Linked DNA regions of Homo sapiens. The protein of the gene in region 3 purifies or fractionates together with the protein of the main gene of each other region. This does not show direct contact. Each region holds a gene or a part of one and is shown on either strand. Other genes may lie near its edges.

Region 1 (4,814 bases), on a different chromosome or scaffold from region 3:
GAAATGTGATGCTTTTATGTTTGTTTTCTGGTTTTTACATTTTTGTTCTGTATCTTACACAATCCACCTTGGGCCCTGTCATCTGATGTGAGATCAAGTACTCAGAGGCAGTGATTACCACAAAACCACTGATCTCTAGAAGAACAGAGAAGGAGAGGGTTAATGTATTTATACATAGTGGGCCTGGCAGGAGCGGGGGGCAGGGTGAGTCGGGAGAACGAAGCTGAGGGTGGGGACATGCAGGAATCTGAAGGCCTTGGTGACAGATTAGTGGAAGAAAGGTCTAGGGTTGCTTCCGATTTGGTATTAAGAACCAAGAAAGAGGCCGGGTGCAATGGCTCACACCTATAATCCCAGTGCTTTGGGAGGCTGAGGCGGGCAGATCACCCGAGGTCAGGAGTCTGAGACCAGCCTGGGCCAACATGGCAAAACCCATCTCTACTACAAATACAAAAATTAGCCAGGTGTGGTGGCGTGTGCCTGTAATCCCAGCTACTCGGGAGGCTGAGGCAGGAGAATCCCCTGGAACCTGGGAGGTGGAGGTTGCAGTGAGCCGAGATCCTGCCACTGCACTCCAGCCTGGCAAAACAGACTGTCTCAAAAAAAAAAAAAAAAAAAAAAAAAAAAAAGCGCTCTTGGATGCAGCGAGGCGAGGCCCTGAGCTGTAGCCATATCATGAGCCAGGCATGCAGGGTGGGCCCCAGCCCTGGCTCAGCGACCGGCCTCCACTGTACCACGGGACCCCAGGCTTGGATTTTCTCTCGTTCTAAATATGTGCCCACAATGAGCGCTCCACTAGCTACAACAACCTTAAGGGTGTTTTTCTACATGGGCACTAGCCAGTAGAGCCCTGCAGTGGGGGCAGAGAATGGGGACTCTTCCAGGGCACCAGTGTTTATCATCTGAACACAAGAGAGGCATCTTGTGTTAATGCTGTTGTCCAGGAGCTTAAGTGAAATGGGCCACATTTCTTTTTGTGTGGAAACCCAGAGTTACAAGGTCATTGGCATTTCAACACAGCATTTTTATTGCTTTTGAAGGTTTCCCTAGAGCAGACATCATTCTATTGCACAGATGTGTCATTTTGGCATTATAGAAAGTTGCAGTTAAAAACGCTTTCTCCAAAATAAAAAGACAAATGAAATACCCAGCATATACAGTTGAAGGCAAAGGAGGGCAGGCTTTAGAGGGATGGGGTCCATTGCTTTTGCTGTGCATCACCCTTGATTAGCAGTTACATTTTGGTAGTACTTCTTACCCCCAATTTCTAGAAATCCTTTTCAAATCCAGATCAGTGGGGCCCCATCTATCAGGAGAATCAACCCTTCAGGAGCCTGAGCAAGAAGACTGAACCTTACTGGCTGAATTAGGATAGCTGCAGAGAGCTGGAAGCTGACACAAAACTAGTTGGAGCAGCCCTGTTTGTCTTAAAGCAAGGCGGGTGGAATTCCAAATGCTGGAGAGGGGCATACAGTGGGTTCCCCCATTCTACAAGCTTAGTAAACCCAGGAGACAGGCACCCACTGTGGAGAACTGCACGCTTGGTCGAAGGCTTCTTGTAATTTCTTAAGGGTTTCATCAACACCATTATTGACCAGTGAGAGGTCAAAGTAGTGAGCGTACTGGCTGCGGATGGCCTCAGAGTCCTTCTGCAGCTGCTGCAGGGCTTCTGTCTGCAAAGAAGAAAGCCACAGATGAAGCAAGCTGCACCACCCCCAGCCCAGAGAGGCCAGTGACAGATTTTAAACAGCAATTGTTAGCGTTGCTCAGCTGTGCATCATACTTGACGAGTCAAATTCAGAAGACATTGTGAAAGAATGTTAATGTAGGGCATGAAGAGGCAATCTCAAAAGACCATGGCAATTCTCAGAGGATCTCAAGCTAACCCTGACTAATCAGAGTCCTCTGGAGGACCAATAGCTATGCAGAGACAGCATGGACTTCACCAGCATCTCCCACTTAATGCCCTTTGAACATGGAAGAGCCATTTCAACAACCACCAGAGCTGCAATCCTAAAACGAAGATAAAGGTGATTTTGTTGTTTTGTTTTGTTTTGAGACAGTGTCTTGCTCTGTGGCCCAGGCTGGAGTGCAGTGGCACAATCTCGGCTCACTGCAACCTCCGCCTCCCGGGTTCAAGCAATTCTCGTGTCTCAGCCTCCCGAGTAGCTGGGATTACAGGCATGCGCCACCACATCTGGCTAATTTTTGTATTTTTAGTAGAGACAGGGTTTTGCCATGTTGGCCAGGCTGGTCTGGAACTTTAGACCTCAGGTGATCCGCCCGCCTCGGCCTCTCAAAGTGCTGGGATTACAGGTGTGAGCCACTGCACCCAGTCAGATAAAGGTGACTTCTAATCCCAGATCACACCTGTAATCCCAGCACTTTGGAAGGCCAAGGCAGGATGATTGCTTGAGCACAGGAGTTCAAGACCAGCCTGGCAACACAGTGAGACCCCATTTCTACAAAAAACAAAATTTAAAAATGTGTGTGTATATATATCTCAGGACTCTGTCTTTGACCTAAAACCAAGCAGCCATGAAAGACAAATCATGTAACTACATAAAAGTAAAAATGTCTGCATAGCAAAAAGACATGCCAAATTGGAAAAAAATTGCAGCTGATATTACAAAGGGCTAATTACCCTAATATAGACTTCCTATAAATCAAAGGTCAATAACTCAGCAGAAAAATGAGCTAAGGGTATGACCAGATAATTCTCAGAAAAGGCAATACAAATTGCTCTTCATATGAAAAAGTACCTGATCATCTCTTTTAGTAAAAAAGAAATATGAGATACTATTTTTCCCTCCAGTAGACTGGCAAAAAAAGAAAATTTTGACAACATGCTGCAGGCAAAGAGAAACAAGCAGTCTCACAGGTGGTTGGCGGTCCCTGTCCAAATTCTAAGTGTGTGTGCTCTTGGACCCAGTGATCCTACTTGGAGTTTTTCCTACAGATATATTTGCACACATGTGCTATATGCACAGGGCTATTGACTGCAGTATTACACATGCATGCAGCAGAAGACCAAGCAGCTATAGAGAAAAAGAGTTCCTCACACCCTGATAGGGAAAGGTGTCCATTGTTCAATGCAAAAGCACAGTGCAGCAAAGTGCATGGGTAGGGCTGGGCAGAGGAGCAGGGTAGGCTTTTTGATATATTCCTGGCCTCTCTGTCTTTCCCCACAGCCATACTGCACCCCAGGGCGGGTTCAGTGCCACCTCTGTCCATCACAGCTTCCCCTGCCAGAGCCTGCATCCCACCAGTATCAGGATCTGCTCAACTGTCCATCTCTGCCCCTGGAACTGTGTGCCTCCAGGACGATGACTGGGTCTGGTTTGTTTTGTCCCTGTTAGGTAGCATGGGCACTGGCCTAGCTAGTGGCTTAAGAGCTGGAACGAATGTGCATACCCTTTGGCTTCTTGGCCCTGGAGGAAGAAGCCCAGCTGGAGCTGTGACCTCCAGCCAGCACTCTGGCCAATGACCTGGACTGAGGTCCCAGTATGGGCAGGCCCGGAGAAAGTGAACTACCCATCGCGCACAACCTCTCCTCACCTGAGTGCCCTGGTCAGTAGGTGCAATGAACACAATGAAAGGCGAAAGTTCTGCTGTCCGAACAATTTTCAGGGTCTAGAAAAAAAAAAGAAGGGCGGCGGGGAGGGGGGGGAAGGAAGAAAAGGAAAGTGAAAAAAAAAAACCTACATAGCTGTCATAATGGATTCCTTCTAATAAGCAGCTTTGAGCTTTACCCCAATACAACTTTCCATCATTCCCAGTACTACTGTTCTTGTTCCAGGCTGACCCCATTAAAAGGCTGAAGCAATCCTGAGCCCCCAGAAGATTCCCAAGGAGCACTGTCTTCGCCATCCCTTGTGTGGCTGAGCCCATCTGTCCCTGCCCTTCCATGCCTACCCACCTGGGGCTCAATGTCAAGGATGGCAATCTTGTTCTGCTTATGGATCTGGTGCACTGTTTCAAATTTGGTGCCAAACATGTTGCCTTGGTAGCTGCCAAACTCCAAGAACTCATTGGCAGAGATGTTCCTCGTCATCTCCTCCGTTGAGATAAAGTGGTACTCCTTCCCATCTTCCTCACTCTTCCTTGGCGGCCGTGTTGTATCTGTGTACAAGAACCCAAATCCCCGACAAACTCCAGGTCCTCACCCTTTCATGAGGGCTTGGACCATGGTGTCTGTATGGAAACCCTAGCTGCCTTTGGTGCATTGACTTTAATACAGGGGTTCCTCCCGTGGGCTCCTGAAGAGCTGATGCTAGAAAGTGATGCACACCAGGAAATCCCTCCATCTGCCCAGGACACATTTAATTTTTAAGGGGCAAAGCCTAACATAGAAAATTCCTATTATCATTTTCCCTAAATGAAGTTACATCTCTCAAACTACCAAATCTAGGAATATTGAAACTTAGAAATGAAGATAGCGGAAAATATTTTAAAAACAGATCTACAGACTATGGTCAGGATTTCTTGGAAATATATTTAAGGTTTCCTTTTCATGACTTGGAAAGAAGAGTACTTTGGTTTAGTTTCAGCTCATGTTGTTAAAAGTTGGACTATTTTCTATTACTCATATAAATTGTCTAATCAGTAAAATATGCTCCAGATATTGTAGCTTGAAACACAATCCTCCCAACCTCCCCTCTTTCCATCTTCCATTGACTGTCTCCTTTGCCTTCCGGATCACACTTGTCTCTCAACTGGCCCCTTCCCCTCAATCTACAACCACATGTGATTCTCTTGAAGGAGGAGCCTGTACTGGTTATTTCTGCTTCCCCACTCACTCCTGGGGCCATCTC
Region 2 (5,012 bases), on a different chromosome or scaffold from region 3:
GTGGGAACAAAATTATTGTTCCCATTCTGAGTTTAAAAGACCATTTAATCCTATATAGATTTTCTTCTATCACTGTGATGGTTAATTTTATATGTTAACTTGACTGGGCCTCAGGGTGCCATATATTTGGTTAAACATTAACTTGGGTGTGTCTTTGAGGGCGTTTCTGAATCAATAAACTGAGTATAGCAGATTGCCCTCCCCAGTGTGGGTGGACCTCATCCAATCCATTGAAGGCCTGATGAGAACAAAAAGGCAAAGTAAGAGAGAACTGTCTTTGAACTGGGACATGGGTCCTCTCCTTTCTTTGGATGTGGACTGGAACTTATGCTATTGTCTCTTCTGGTTCTTAGCTCTTTGGATTTGGACTGGAACTGTACCATGGGCTCTCCTTGGTCTCTAGCTTGTTGACTACAGATCCTGGGACTTCTCAGCCTCCATAACCCCATGGGCTAATTCCTTAAAATAAATCTCCTATTTATTCTGTTTCTTTGAAGAATCCAGTCTAATACAATCACTTACTCAAAATCCTGAGCCTCTGTCACCCCTCTTTTCCTTTTAAGCTTCTGATTTAATTTTCCAAGTTTATTATTTAAATGGCAGTAGCCCTGTGACACAGATACACAGCTATATGAAAAAGGAACAAAATTCTCATGTTTTGCTTCAGGAATAAAACTTTAAAGATAAAGGTAGGCTTAAGATATAAGCCCAAACATGTACTGAAAAATGTTTAATAAATGTATTGCTGAACTAATTTTAATTGTCATATTACTATTTTGAAATAAATAAAACCAATATTTCATTTAACTACAATTTGATTCTGAATAAGCAATCCCAAATCCAAAAATTAAGTTTTAGAACTTTTCCTAATCTAAGCTGAGCCTGATTAATATTTACAAAAAAAAATTATTAAAAGAAAACATAATATCATTAGATAATTTTAACTACACATGAACAAAGGATAGAAGGCTCAAGGTACTAGAGAAAATTCACTGCAGATGTTTCATATAGAAAGTACATTTATTGCATGTTTTAATATTTACATGCCTTTACATAACTCAAACACACATCAGATGTGTAATTAGGAAAATATATGAGGAATAACTCATCCATCTAAAACCTGATCAATGTATCCAGAGACCTGCAATAATTTTAAAATCATCAGTTTGTATATATATATATATTTTTGAGACGGAGTTTTTTGCTCGTCACCCAGGCTGGAGTGCAGTGGTACGATCTTTGGCTTACTGCAACCTCTGCCTCCCAGGTTCAAGTGATTCTCCTGCCTCAGTCTCCCAAGTAGCTGGGATTACAAGCACAGGCCACCATGCCCGGTTAATTTTTATATTTTTAGTAGAGACAGGGTTTTGCCATGTTGGCCTGGCTGGTCTCAAACTCCTGACCTCAGGTGATTTGCCTGCCTTGGCCTCCCAGAAGTGCTGAGATTACAGGCATGAGCGAGCCACTGTGCCCAGCCATCAGTTTGTATTTTAAGGCAGAATTACTTGAAATTTAGTCAATAGGCTGCCTAGAATCAGGTCAATTGAAAAGGAAGCTATTTTGAGTTTTTAACAACAAAAAATTATTTGGCTTTCATTTTATACATCAAGGTGGCAGAATACAATTTTGTCACATCATTTGAAAAAAACATTCTTTTACTAGAATCTAACAAAGTATCAGTCTCAAGACTAAAGTTAAAAAGCAATCGACAGAAGTCTATACCTGAAAGGCCTGAATTCTCTATTTAATGACGACAAGGCAATTAGATGAGGGCATTCATCTTCATACTCGTCAGAGCCAGCAGGGACTCCTCCTTGAACTCTCTGACCATCTTGCCTGTTGTAATTTTCAGTTCTGTTTTTCTCCTCAGAAAATTCAGTTACAGAGTTGTTTTCAACAACCTGCCCTTTTATTTCTTCTAAAGCTTGATTGAATTCAGTCATTTCAAAACTCCGTGCATCAGCACTCTCTTCTGATAAACTGTCTTCCTTTATTTGTTCAGGGTCTCCAGATGATCTGCAATAGCAGCCCTCTGATTCTTCTAGACAGTTCCGTTCACTTTCATTTTCTGACCCGTAAACCTCTGCTTTTTCTGCCACTTCTCCATCTGAAAATGAGAATTCAGATCCCTCTTTTGTTTCAATATTTTTATCATCTGGACCTAATGGATGAAGCAGTTCATCATCTGCCTGCATTTCCTTTGTGTAGCCACTGGCAGAAACCTCCACATCAAGAGTGTCTTCTCTCCTAGAAAAAAAAGGCGTCAAGCATAGAAAGAGAGAAAAAATGTTTATCTAAGAGGAGCAAATATCTACTACTCTGATAAATTATGATTCAAGTGAGTTTAATAGCTTATATGTTAAAAATAAATTTTCCTTCCCTAAAATGTAATATTTAAATGACACAGGTAAACAAATATGAAAGGTATATGCTGGCTGTCATTTTAAGAATAAAATAACTGAAAAGCAACAATATAAATAAAAAGGTTATAAAAACCTCAGCTTATGTTTATTAACTTTGTAAATTAACTTTCAAAGGGGGCTAAGGATTTCCTTCAGATTATGTGACTCATCCCAGATCAGAAAATATCTTAAGTGTATAAAATAAATATGAGAAAACTGAGCTTTGAGAATGCACATGATAGTTATGTTTTGAGAATCAATTAAAGATACCTCCTGGTCCTTGATAAAGGAAAAACACAAATTTCAATGAATGTTTGGTGTTATTCCTTATGAATGAGTTACTCAAATAGCATCCAAAATAGAATAAAAGTTCTTGAATTTATAAGAATCTAGATATGTCCGCTTCCTAAAATTCAGTAACAGTGCCTTAATGGACCAAATGCAGGTATTTTCAAGTTTTTAAGTTTCAGTTATGTACTACAGAGCAATGACATCTAACAGTGATTACGTGTCAAAATTTGGAAAGTTTTTTAGATGAAAATGTTAATTTTTAGAAATACACAGACCAGATATTTAAACTGTTCTATTATGTAAAGCAATGGGGAGTACAAACCTGATATCCTTAAAAGTTGGAAAAAGCTCACTTTCGTAGCTGAAACGTTTCATAAAGAAATCTTTAATGCATTTAACATCTCTGTCAAAATACCTGCAAAAGCAAGAATCATTTATGATATAGTCTTTATTGCTCCTCTTTTTCCTTATTAGCCAATGACAATATACTTATTGGTTAATGGTATTGCTCCTCCTTACACAAGGAGATAAAAGATGTTACACAAAAGAAAAAAGATACAAATGAGTTAACCAGTGTGTTTGAAAAACTAAAATCCAAGGAAATCTCAAGGATATAAGCTGTCAATGCCATGCAGTTCCTACGGTTAGGAAAGTCAAGGTTTTGTCATAGTTACTGGTATATAGTTAGATACACTAGGGAAAGATGAATGTGAACCCCAGGAAATAAGATAATGGGCCTATGGTTTGGGGATAGGTTTCCACTTATTCTGTTCGTCCTGAGTCTGGCTATGCTTCTTATCAGCAACACTCACTAGAACCCCTAGCCAACTGAAAGATCTGACGATAAAAAGATATTAATATTAAACAGTTAAGTTTGGAGACTACTGAATTATGTTTATGTATCTTTGTTATCCATTAGCCGATTTGCAATAACACCCAAAGGGATAAATAATGCTACAGCCTATAAAAATAATCTGAGGACATGTTAATCTGGACCAAAAGTAGAACAATATCTGAATATCAGGCTGCCTTTTTGGGCCACCACAAAGCAGCAAAAATGGATTCAATTCTCTAGAAGATTTCCAGACAAGGGAGAATTAAGGACAGGATAATGTGCAATTGACTCTCTTTGAGAAAGATGAAGTTTGGAAATAGGAAGATAATGCCTCTCCTCTTTGCTCACAGGGTACTCTGGGAAAAATACTAATACATTTTAAAAAGACTATTTTATATATGTTTACATCTCCCTACGAGACAGTAACATTTTCTAAAGCATATATAGGGGTTATTTATATCTCAATCTCTAGCAATTAGCACAGCTCCTTGGCCCCAGAACTGGTTCATAAAAATTGAAATTAAATCACAATGTCTCTCCATAGAACGATGCAGCCTAAACCTAGAATGTCATAATCTGTCACACTCTGGAGGCTCCTAGATGTTCCTTTACTGTGTGACTATGTTACTCCTTATTAATAAAAATCATGATTAGTCATCATCCAAAGAGTACTGACCACCCCAGTGCCAGGCATTAATCTTTTAGTATTATTTTGTTGAAAACGTTTTAAAAATTTATTTTCAAATGACATTTCTTTCTGTAGCATAAGTATAGACATTTTCTACTGGAAACCAGGATGAAGAGACGCTTCACTTAACAAAACTACTTCAAGCTCAATCTCTGGAAGAATTAATATACTCTATTATATAAGTGATACTAGTTGTTAGTTTAGGAAAAAAGTTTCTCATAAAGCTTGGAACAGAAAGAAAAAAAAATCCTTAGTTACACTCAATTGAATCATAAACCTCAAGCAAATAAAGGATAAGGTCCTGTTTCATGACTTGGCTGGCTTGGTTTAAATAAGTAATGTGAAGAATATGATTATCGCAGTATATCATGATTCTGCACTGTGTCAGAGATAAAGTTTTATGTGATTTTTTTTCTAATAAATAAAGCTAAAAGTGACAAGAGGTAATTATCACTGGTTTGACAACTGAGTCCAGTCCAAAACCACAACTTTTATTCAGATCATCGAGATTACTGAGTTATACTTGGTGAATCTCTCTTGGAGGCAATCATGGAACAGCAAGAAAAAGGGAAAGACAAAAGTGGTTCTAGAGTTCCCCACTACACTCCCTACTTTTACCTGTTTTAACAATTGGTCTTCCATCTAAAAGTCTGTTTGAACAAAGGGTTCCATGGCTAAGAAAATTTGACTTTTGAACGTCTGTCAATTTACAACAGAGAAATTCAAATTCTTATGGGGAAAACTCTAGTAGTTATACTTTAATAAAAAACCAAATTTTTATAACGTTAACACTAGC
Region 3 (5,012 bases):
TAAGCAGGTGATGTTGTCAGTCCCATATTATAGAAGCCGAGGCACAGGGAGCCAGTGACTGCTGCGCCTAGCAGAGCTGGGATTCAAATCCAGGCAGGGGGTGCCCAGTCTGTGCTCAAGGCAGCCTTGCCTTTCAGCGGAAGGGGAGCTTGCGAGCAGCCGTGGCCCAGGTCACGGGGCCCACACAAGATCCCCTGCAGGGAGATGCTGCCAGGCTGAGCCCTGGCTTCCTGAGCCCAACTCCCAGCAGCGCGGTGGGTTCATAGACATAGGGTGGCACCGGCTCTGGTTGCAGGACCCCTGGCTAAGACCCCTCCTCCTGCCCCTATCCCAGCCAACTCACCAGGCTCCAGGGCAATGCTTAGTAAGGCCTGGAGCTGAGAGGCATTGAGTTCTTCCTCCTAGTCCAGGAAAGAGGGCTTGTGAGGCCATTTACTCATCCAGCTGCTCTGGGCCAAGCCCTGTGCTAGGGACACGGCAGGGGCTGACAGAGCCTCAGAGCCCTAGCTCCAGGAGTGGGGGAGACAGACCTGTCCCCACAGGGCCAGGGCTGTGACGGGGGAAGCACTGGGCTGTGGTTGCTGGTGGGGGGCCAGCAGACCGGCCTGGGGCAGGGGGGTGGTCAGGGAGAGCTTCCAGGGCTGGGCACCTTAGATGAGACCTGAGCCTGGCTGGAGGTGTCAGGAGGGAGAGGGTGGTCCTGGGAGAGGGTATGGACTGAGCCCAAGGCCCTGAGGCAGGGAGGAGCTGTGAGCATTTCAAGAAAAGGTCAGGAGATTTAAGCCCGGAGGGAGGAAAAAGCAAGCAAAATGAGACACCTGAGATGCTGGGGTGGGGGAAGGGGGGTCCCCAAGGGGAGGCCGCAGCGGGATACCCCCTCAGTCCAATCCCCCTCCTCACCTCTCCAGCCAGCTCCTGAAACAGCTGCTCCAACCCCAGCTCCAGGGGCAGGTAGGGGCCCTGCCGCATGGCGGAAGTTTAGCGCTGGCCAAGATCCCCGCCCCATGCCGCCCCTCCAGGAACAGTCCCCACCTGGAGAGACTGCAGGTCTGCGCTGATCACGTCGTCGATCTCCCTGCAAATTACAGATGGGAAGTGGGGAGGGGGCTGTTTGCCCCAGCTGGGGCTGTGTGGGACGGGGTCTCAGGTGAGGAATCGCGTGGGGTCTAGGTAGGGACCGTGGAGCCCTGGGCTCATCCTCGCGGGGCGGGGGTTCTGGGGGCGGGGCGGGGGTTCTGGGGGCGGGGCGGGGGTTCTGGGGGCGGGGCGGGGGTTCTGGGGGCGGGGCGGGGGTTCTGGGGGCGGGGCGGGGCGGGGGTTCTGGGGGCGGGGCGGGGCGGGGGTTCTGGGGGCGGGGCGGGGGTTCTGGGGGCGGGGCGGGGCGGGGCGGTGGTTCTGCGGGCGGGGCGGGGCGGGGCGGGGCGGGGCGGGGGTTCTGGGGGCGGGGCGGGGCGGGGCGGGGGTTCTGGGGGCGGGGCGGGGCGGGGGTTCTGGGGGCGGGGCGGGGCGGGGCAGGGGTTCTGGGGGCGGGGCAGGTCAGGTCTCGGGGGTCTCGGGGGTCTCGGGGGTCTCGGGGGTCTCGGGGGTCTCGGGGCCTGTCTAGGCAGGGATGGGGTCGGATTTGGGTGCCCGGGGCTCACACGGCCGTGTGGCGGCGCTCGGAGAAGACACGCAGAGTGAAGTCAGCCTCGTCGCCGGCGTGGGCGGTGCTCGGCACCACCAGGTAGTGGCCTGGACGCAGGCAGCAGCGGCGGGTCACGTCGCGGCGGGCGCTGAGGGGCGAGCGGTCGGCGCGCAGCAGCCGGGGCAGGAGCGCATGGCTGCGCGGGGAATCCCAGAGGCCCAGCAGCTGGGGACGGGGCGGCATGACCACGGACCAGGCTCACCCCCGGCCCTTCATCCCCGCACCCTCCAGCGCGCCCCGTCCACCCTGCCTAACCCCTGTCCACGCCTCCCCTGCCCCCGGACCCGGCTCTGCCCCCCCACCCCCAGGGCAGTTTGACCAAGCCCCAGGGCAGGTTGACCAAGCCCCAGGGCAGGTTGACCAAGCCCCAGGGCCGGTTGACCCCATCCCAGACTCACCTCCTCTGGAATCTGAAAGAAGCAAGAGCAAGGGGCGTCGGGGCAGGGGAGAGGTGGCCGCCGCTCAGGGTCTCCTCCCTGCCCCTTCTCACCTCTGTGCTCTCTCCCTCCTTCTTCGTCCTATTAGACCCTTATTGAACCTTTGCCCCGCAGTCCCCGACCCAGGCCCTCGCCGACCCCTCCCCAACTCTTCCTTCCCCATCTGCGCTCCCAGCGCCTTCTCTGTATCCTTGGTCCCCTCTGGCCCTTCTAACCCCCAGCCTCTCTCTGTCCCTAACCTCGTCCCTCTGTCTGTCCCTGAGCCCCTCCCTCTCATTCCCTTAGCTCCCTCTCCCCTCTGAGACCTGGCCCCCCAGCCCTACTAGCCCCCTACTCCCCTCCCAGCGCCGCCCCCTCTTGGCCCTGCTCCTCCACTCCTCCCCTCCTCCCCGATCCTCTTCAGTCCCACCCCTCCACCACTCCCCCTCTTCCCCCTTGGCCCCGCCCTCCACACCTCCCCTCTTCCCACTGGCCCCGCCCCTCCATGCCTCCCCCGCTCCTTGGCCCGGCCCCGCCCCTCCACCCTCCGGGTTCCCTCCAGCCTCAGCTTTGCCCAGGACCTCACCTGGAACACGTGGAAGCCAACGGTGAGGTAAGTGAGGCCCTTGGCTCTCAGGCGCCGCCGGTTGCGCTGGATGAGGGACAGAAGGACCGTGCACTTGGGCGTGCGGCCCCCCCGCGCTGGGCCCCGTGCCCCTGCAGCCCCCCAGCCCCCCCAGGGCCCTTCCTCATCCTCGTCATCCTCCTCATCAGGCTCCAGCAGCGTTAAACGGAACTGAGGATTGGTCCAGAAGGTTTCTAAGGGAGGAGGAAAAAAGGGGGTTTCCTAGCCGGCCACAGCGCCCCCCACCCCAGGAAGCCTCTCAGGGCCCCTCAGGCCTCACCAGCATTAGGCTGGCTCCCGCCGGAGTTGAAGCCACGCACCCAGCGGCCTTGGAAGGTGTGGACGTGCCAGCCGCCCCCCTCCGGGCTGGGGCCCAGCACCTCCGGGCTCAGCGAGCAGATCTGCACGGTGTCGAAATGGAGGAGGAAGTCCCGCAGCTCCATCCTGCACGGTGGCCCAGTCAGACCCTGCCCGGCCCCACCTCGAGGGGGTCCCAAGATCCCGGAAATGACTCCCAGATCCCAAAGCCCCTCACATTTCTTAAATATTGTCAAATACCCTTCAGGCTCCAGAAATGAACCCCAAATGCCTGGGCCTCTAGCTCTGCCAAATTCCTCCAAGTCCTCAGACATGCCCCACAAATCGCCAAGATTCACAAGCTGCCCCCAAATATCGTTAAATTGCCACCAACCCCCAAATAGCAAGACCCTCAGACTCTAAATTACCAACAAGTACCCTTCAGCCCCTCAACATTGCCAAATCTCAAGAAATGCCCCAAATATCACCAAGCCTTCCTCCATTGCCCTAAATACTGCCCATCCCTTTCAATCCTCCACAGATAACTAGGCCTTCAAATTCCCCTCATATTACTACTTTTTTAAACCCACTCCAATCAGAGGTTCTCTAATATTACTACCAATTCTTCCTTGATTTCCCAAAATAGAACCTGGCCCCAAAATTACCACCGATGTACACAGTTTCTCCCTATTAGGACCCATCCTTCAACTGGGGCTCGCCCTCCCTGAACCCCTTGGCAGAGACCCTCCCAGAGGCAGAGCTGGGACCCTGACGAACTGACCAGAACTCGCCATCCTCCTTTTTCACCAGCAGGGCATCGCGGCACTCGGTGGGGAGTGTGTCCCAGCGTGGGCAGCTGGAGAGACTGTGGTGTGAGGGGCGGGCAGGTGGGGTCCAGCCCCACACCCACCCCAGACCCATCCCACCTGTCGCTCCAGGCCCCCGTCCACTCCACGCAGCCCCATGGGTTCCGCAGCCGCAGCAGCCGCACCTTGGTGAAGCCCAGGAACACCTGGGGCAGCATCGTCAGTGGGGGTGATGCCTGGACATGGCCTGCCACCCCACCCATGGGGGACACTTACCTTGTGTGTGCCCGTGATGGAATACGCGTGTCCCTTTACCAGGCCCTCTTCTGTGCGGTACTCACCCCGATCACTCTGGGCAGGGGATGGGATGGTGAGGCCAAGGTAGGGGACAGGAGGGCAGCTGCTCCTCCCTGCCCCCAACCTCCTGCCACCAAGGCAGGAGCCAACCAGAGCACTGAACTGAATGGCACGCAGCTCAGAGACCATGTCAGGGTTAGTGACTGAAGGCGAAAGAGAAAAGGAGAGGAAGGGAGATGGAAACGAGACAAAAGGAGATGGAGGTACGGGCTCACGCCTGTAATCCCAGCACTTAGGGAGGTCGAGGTGGAAGGACTACTTGAGGCCAGGAGTCCAAGACCAGCCTGGGCAACATAGCAAGACCCCAAGTCTACAAAAATTTTAAAAATTCAACAGGCGTGGTGGTGCACACCAGTGGTCCCAGCTACTCTGGAGGCTGAGGCAGGAGGATCCCTTGAGCCCAGAGGTCAAGGCTATAGTGAGCTATGATGACACTACTGCACTCTGGCCTGGGTGACAGAGTGAGATGAGACCCTGCCTCCAAAAACAAAAACAAACAAAATAGATGGAAAGAGGCCTGTTGTGGTGGCTCACACCTGTAATCCCAGCACTTTGGGAGGCCGAGGCGGGCAGATCACAAGGTCAGGAGATTGAGACCATCCTGGCTAACACAGTGAAACCCCATCTCTACTAAAAATACAAAAAACTAGCTGGGCATGGTGGCGGGCGCCTGTAGTCCCAGCTACTCGGGAGGCAAAGCAGGAGAATTGCTTGAACTTGGGTGACAGAGGTTACAGTGAGCCAAGGTCGTGCCACTGCACTCCAGCCTGGGTGACAGAGCAAGATTCCGTCTCAAAAAAAAAAAAAAAAAAAAAAAAGATGGAAAG
Region 4 (5,221 bases), on a different chromosome or scaffold from region 3:
AAATCATGCCACTGCACTCCAGCCTGAACAACAGAGCAAGACTCCATCTCATTAAAAAAAAAAAAAAAAAAAAGGGAAGAAAAGCAAGTATTGTAGAGTCAGACAGAAGACAAGGGTCCAAAGCTCAGCTCTGCCACTTCCTGTGTGATATCAGACCAGGGTATTAACCTTGTTATTCTGAGGTTCTACTTCTTCATTTGTAAAATGGGGATACAAATACTATACCTAACGAGTAGTTGTGAGGTTTATACAATTCTGTTTACTAGCTCATATAGTGTCTGACACATAGTAAATAGGTACTGAATAAAGTTTAGCTATTATGAAGTCTCTGGATGCAGGGGATATAATTGTCTAATGAATCTGAAAGTCATATGGGATATCATTAGCACATGCTGCAGGAAGGCTTTCCCCTCATCTCTTGGATTCATTTTGTTGTCTTGTTTAGGTAACAGTTGATGTCACTTGCTTTCCTTCTCTTGACCTCTCTGCTTTGATTCTGAACATTTTCCATGTTATCTATTATTCTGAATTAATCATTTTTCAACTCTGTAAGTTACTCTTCTTTTTTTTGAGATAGGGTCTCACTCTGTTGCCCAAGCTGGAGTGCAGTGGCGTGATCTCAACTCACTGCAGCATCCACCTCCCGGGCTGAAGTGATCCTCCCACCTCAGCTCCCCAGTAGCTGGGACTACAGGAGCCACCACAGTTGGCTAATTTTTGTATTTTTTTGAGAGATGAGGTCTCCCTATGTTGCCCAGGCTGGTCTCGAACTCCTGGGATCAGGCCATCTGCCCCACCACCCCCACCTTGGCCTCCCAAAGTGTTGGGATTCCAGGCATGAGCCACCACGCTTGGCCAATATCTTTCTTCTATAAATAAGTTCATGGCAATTAAGGTGGCTCACTAAAAAGAGAAGATACAAATCAGTCAGAGCCAGACTGACTCTGAACCCAAACAGTGCTTCTCTCAGTGAAAGGGCAGGAACCACAGAACACGAATTATGTTGGTGAGATTCGTGTGACTTTTAATTTATTATGTTACTAATGTCTTACAGTAAGTGTGAGGAGTAAAGACAGGGATGGGGTAAAGGTAAGGAAAAGTATTTTTCAAGTTCCTTGAACTATTGAAGCATGTGCTAGGATAAGAAAGTTCAGTAAAAGCATCATGTCCTTATCACCAGAGCTCTTAAAGGAGACATGGAACAGAGACGGGGCAACTCTTCAGCTCTGGCCGAAGTGACTGCTGGACAGAGAACAAATCCTGCATCAGCCTTGGCACACATGAAAGACTGGGCAATGCAGATGCTACACAGTTGGGCAGATGAAGAGCTGACTGTCCAGAATCTACTTCTAGCAAGCGAGTAGGCGCATGCACACCCCTTCTCTGGTCTGAGTGTCTCTTCCTCTCCGGCAGGACCCCACCAACTGTGCAGCCATGGGGTAAGTGTTAGGGAAGTCTTTTAGAAAAGAGAAAGATGTCTTTCTTATATATACGCTGGTAGTGTTGATTGACCAGAAGTGGTTTCTTTTACTTTGGGGCGGTAGCATTGTGTTCTGGTGACAAAATATCCTACACTTAGCACTCGTAAAAGGCATAGGAGAGTGAAAGCAACGCCTCTTTATGACCTAGGCTAGTGGGAAGGGGAATACGTGGATTCTAAGGGTAAGGGGATGAAAAAGCTAATTCTATATCACCACAAATGAACTGACACATAAATGACACCTTGGCTTTTTCCACTCATAGAAACACTCACTTCTTCTAGCTTACACTACTAAATCTAAGGTCGGCTTCATCACAGTTTGGGATATTTACTGTGCTTCTAAAGTAAAGGTGAAAAGCTACATCCTTAATAGTTTTTTTCCTAATTAAATAGATTTGTGTAAGCTGAAAGCCTAAAGTCTAGGGATTCTTTGCATTATTTTATATGTTGGGGGAAACCCTTAAAATTCATCACTGCCATTTTTTTAACCTACAGAATTGAAAGAATATGAAATGGGCAGGGATAAGTAATTACACGAATCATAGACATGGTCAACATGCATCTAATTTTACCCACTGAGCAGAGCGCGAATGGGGGTAAGTTCTTTTGAGAAGAACCAAAATGTGTTTAAAAGGGAAGAATACTACACTAGACTATTTTTTTCCTACATAGAAGAAAAGGATATATGGAATTGAAGGAGGTGAAAAGTGTCCATTAAACAAACACCTATTATTTGTGAAATAATTCTATCAGAGTGGAATTGGGTGTGGACCATTAGTTTATCTCTGGCAGTGATCTTATGTTTTAGGTATCTAGAGTAAGATTATTTAGCTGGGTAATGGCTGGGTAGCATGAATAGTTTTAATTTCAGTTCACAGCAAATGACGATGATCGCAGATTTAGCACCTTAGTTTGTACTTCCTCTGCACCTGAATCATCGATCACTGTGAAGCGTGAGCTGAAGGTCAGAAAGCTGTATTCTTAGATAACTCATCTGTGATTGCTCCAGGACTGCAGTTTACTTCAATCTAAGGGGTGGTTTTCTTATTAGAGAATGTAAGTATTCAATACTAAATATGAGACTGAAGCCTTGAAGACATTTTATAGTGGTGGCAGGTGTTATAGTTCAGGAATAGGCTGTTTAACAAGTCAAATGCATATCATTCCCTCTTAAGCATTAACTTTTTCAAAGCAATGGAATTATATTTTTTGGCTTGAAATGGTGGTTTCTTCTATATTTGATTTCTCGGTTTTCTTAGTAGATATTACTGTCTCCTCTAATATTTCTTCAAAACTTTCCCCTATCTGGGAGGTTTTCTTAGAGGCTACCTTAGATGCCTCCTCCTCCTCCTCCTCTTTCTTAAGTGATAGCCCAGTGGATGAGACTTTGGAGGTTGTAGCACTGAGGATTCTAGGTGGGAGCAGGTAACTTGGATTGGGAAGTGGATTCAGCCCCGAAATGCTTAACCCACTGGTGCTAAAACGTGTCTCCTCGCCTTCCAGCAGTTTCCTGTAAATTCAACAGAGAAAAACTCTTAGGAAGTCAATAACTTTTCCCCCCCAGAACTCAACCCTCCAATCCTGATTCATTTGAGAGAGATTCCAAAGGACTTTGGAGTTTCTTCATGAGATTGAAACCAATAAATATTTAATTTCAAAGCTCAAAGGGTTGGACCACGTGCATACGCATGCGCACACACACACCCCCCTTCAGCACCAGCTATGTTTAAAGCATTGTCAAAGGAAAACCTATCCTGTTCACAAATATATTCCAGGAGGAAAACCTGCAACTCCACTTGGCCACATCACACCCATTTTTGGCAATTAGCAACAAAGCTCTAGGGAGAAGTACTTTTCCTAAGTAACACCTTAGCTGCAATAGGGATAAGGAGGTGAGATGTCCACAAAGGTGGTAGAAACTGTCTTACTCAACCTGGATTTGAGATTTGTACTTTTTCAGTGTATACGGGTACAAAGGGAATAGAACCAGCAATAACAAAAACCAGTGAATGACACTGTTTCAGATAACAGATTTTTATCAGCGTGACGAAAACAGTCTTATAAAAGAGTGGCCCCAAACCATGTTTCTCATAACTCTTAATAGTTTTTAATTATCCTTTTTTTTTTTTTTTTTTTTTAGACAGAGTCTCACTGTCTCCCAGGCTGGAGTGCAGTGACATGATCACAGCTCACTGCAACCTCCACCTCCCAGGTTCAAGCGATTCTCTTGCCTCAGCCTCCAGAGTAGCTGGGACTGCAGGTGTGTGCCACCACGCCTGGCCAATTTTTGTGTTTTTAGTAGAGACTGGGTTTCACCATGTTGGCCAGGCTGGTCTTGAACTCCTGATCTCAAGTGATCCACCCACCTTGGCCTCCCAAAGTGCTGGGATTATAGGAGTGAGCTACTGCACTTGGCCCCAAACCCTATTTTTAAAGTTACGAGTCTCATGGGTTTTTATTTTAACCTCTGTGTACTCACATTATCCCCTTAAATCCTTTCAGAGGTACACAGAATACTCTGGGACTAGTCAGATGGAGCTGGATTATATCTAAGTAGAGGGACAGAGCAGTCAGCTCACCTGAAAGGGGCCAGTGATGCCCTTCTTCCCTCCCTCACCAGTCAGAAGCCAGAGAGACTAGATCCACTTATTTGGGCAGCATTGCCCCTAGGTGACTGGATTTACTCGGGTAAGCAGGTCCTTTGCAGTACCTGTAAGCTGCTATCTCAATGTCAAGAGCCATTTTGACATTGAGCAAGTCCTGGTATTCCCGAAGGTGGCGTGCCATCTCACTCTTGGTGTTCCTCAGATCATTCTCCAGCTGCCCAATGCTATCCTGAAAAGTAACATATCCAAAATAGTTAGGCCAAACCAGCTGAAATTCCTCAAGATTTCCAGAAGGCAAGGATTCCCAGCCCTGACTACACATTAAAATCATCTAATGAACTTATAACTTGCTTATATCCAGGTCTGTCCCTGAGTCCAGATCCAGATTCACTGGTTCTGGGGTGGGGTCCCAGCATTTGCATTTTTTTCATAAAGGTCCCCAGGAGATTTGGACTCATGGTGAGGACTGGGAACTTTTACCCAGAGGGCAAGTGAACACCTGCCCTTTTCAGGATAGCCACACGGCATATAGTTCTGAACTGAACATGGAGATGATTTTTTTTTTTTTTACACTTACCATCCCTCCCTTGCTTGTTGTGTTGCTGCTAAATAACTCTGTTGTAGCATGTGCTTTCCAAAACCCAAAGCCTCAGGTTAGCAGCTTAGATTCAGAAAATTCCGAATGTGGAAAGCACAGAGAGCTTTCCAGGAAGACCTCTCTGCCTCCATTCATTTTGATGATTTCCTAGAAGCCTGCTAATCAGTCACTTTACTGAGAGCATTTTACATTATAGGTAAGGAGAAAGCAGAAATACTCCACAGAATTTTTAAAACACCGAGGCATGGAAGAGAAATCGCTTTATATTTATATATTTATAGTCCTTGAGCAGCCAGAAGGAATTCTTTTTTTTTTTTTTTTTTTTTTTTTGAGACAAGGTCTTGCTCTGTTGCCTAGGCTGGAGTACAGTGGTGTGATCACAGCTCACTGCAGCCTCAAAATTCCTGGGCTCAAGCGATCTTCCTGTCTCAGCCTCCCAAGCAGTTGGGACTAACAGGTGTACACTACCATGCCTGGCTAGTTAAAAAAGATTTTTGTTTTGTAAAGATGAGGTCTCATTATGTTGTCCAGGCTGGT

Evidence for each region.
Region 1: the proteins of CAPN12 (region 3) and MPP1 purify together in Homo sapiens (affinity purification with mass spectrometry; one large-scale study listed by BioGRID and IntAct). This does not show direct contact.
Region 2: the proteins of CAPN12 (region 3) and RIOK2 purify together in Homo sapiens (affinity purification with mass spectrometry; one large-scale study listed by BioGRID and IntAct). This does not show direct contact.
Region 4: the proteins of CAPN12 (region 3) and INA purify together in Homo sapiens (affinity purification with mass spectrometry; one large-scale study listed by BioGRID and IntAct). This does not show direct contact.

The regions. Positions count from the first base shown.
Region 1 is NC_000023.11:154,777,681-154,782,494, forward strand, and holds the end of MPP1 (55 kDa erythrocyte membrane protein), read right to left. Parts: intron 4,123-4,814; coding exon 3,920-4,122; intron 3,634-3,919; coding exon 3,559-3,633; intron 1,674-3,558; coding exon 1,497-1,673; 3' UTR 1,004-1,496; downstream 1-1,003. UniProt on the Homo sapiens protein: Essential regulator of neutrophil polarity. Regulates neutrophil polarization by regulating AKT1 phosphorylation through a mechanism that is independent of PIK3CG activity.
Region 2 is NC_000005.10:97,165,745-97,170,756, forward strand, and holds part of RIOK2 (serine/threonine-protein kinase RIO2), read right to left. Parts: intron 3,109-5,012; coding exon 3,016-3,108; intron 2,248-3,015; coding exon 1,723-2,247; coding exon of another isoform or gene 1,695-1,722; exon of another isoform or gene 1,002-1,694; intron 1-1,001. UniProt on the Homo sapiens protein: Serine/threonine-protein kinase involved in the final steps of cytoplasmic maturation of the 40S ribosomal subunit. Involved in export of the 40S pre-ribosome particles (pre-40S) from the nucleus to the cytoplasm.
Region 3 is NC_000019.10:38,734,470-38,739,481, forward strand, and holds part of CAPN12 (calpain-12), read right to left. Parts: exon of another isoform or gene 4,180-5,012; coding exon 4,105-4,179; exon of another isoform or gene 4,035-4,104; coding exon 3,949-4,034; exon of another isoform or gene 3,879-3,948; coding exon 3,804-3,878; exon of another isoform or gene 3,170-3,803; coding exon 3,006-3,169; exon of another isoform or gene 2,920-3,005; coding exon 2,687-2,919; exon of another isoform or gene 2,095-2,686; coding exon 2,083-2,094; exon of another isoform or gene 1,850-2,082; coding exon 1,641-1,849; intron 1,076-1,640; coding exon 1,033-1,075; coding exon of another isoform or gene 961-1,032; coding exon 901-960; intron 402-900; coding exon 344-401; intron 1-343. UniProt on the Homo sapiens protein: Calcium-regulated non-lysosomal thiol-protease.
Region 4 is NC_000010.11:103,286,129-103,291,349, reverse strand, and holds the end of INA (alpha-internexin), read right to left. Parts: intron 4,316-5,221; coding exon 4,191-4,315; intron 2,991-4,190; coding exon 2,681-2,990; 3' UTR 1,004-2,680; downstream 1-1,003. UniProt on the Homo sapiens protein: Class-IV neuronal intermediate filament that is able to self-assemble. It is involved in the morphogenesis of neurons.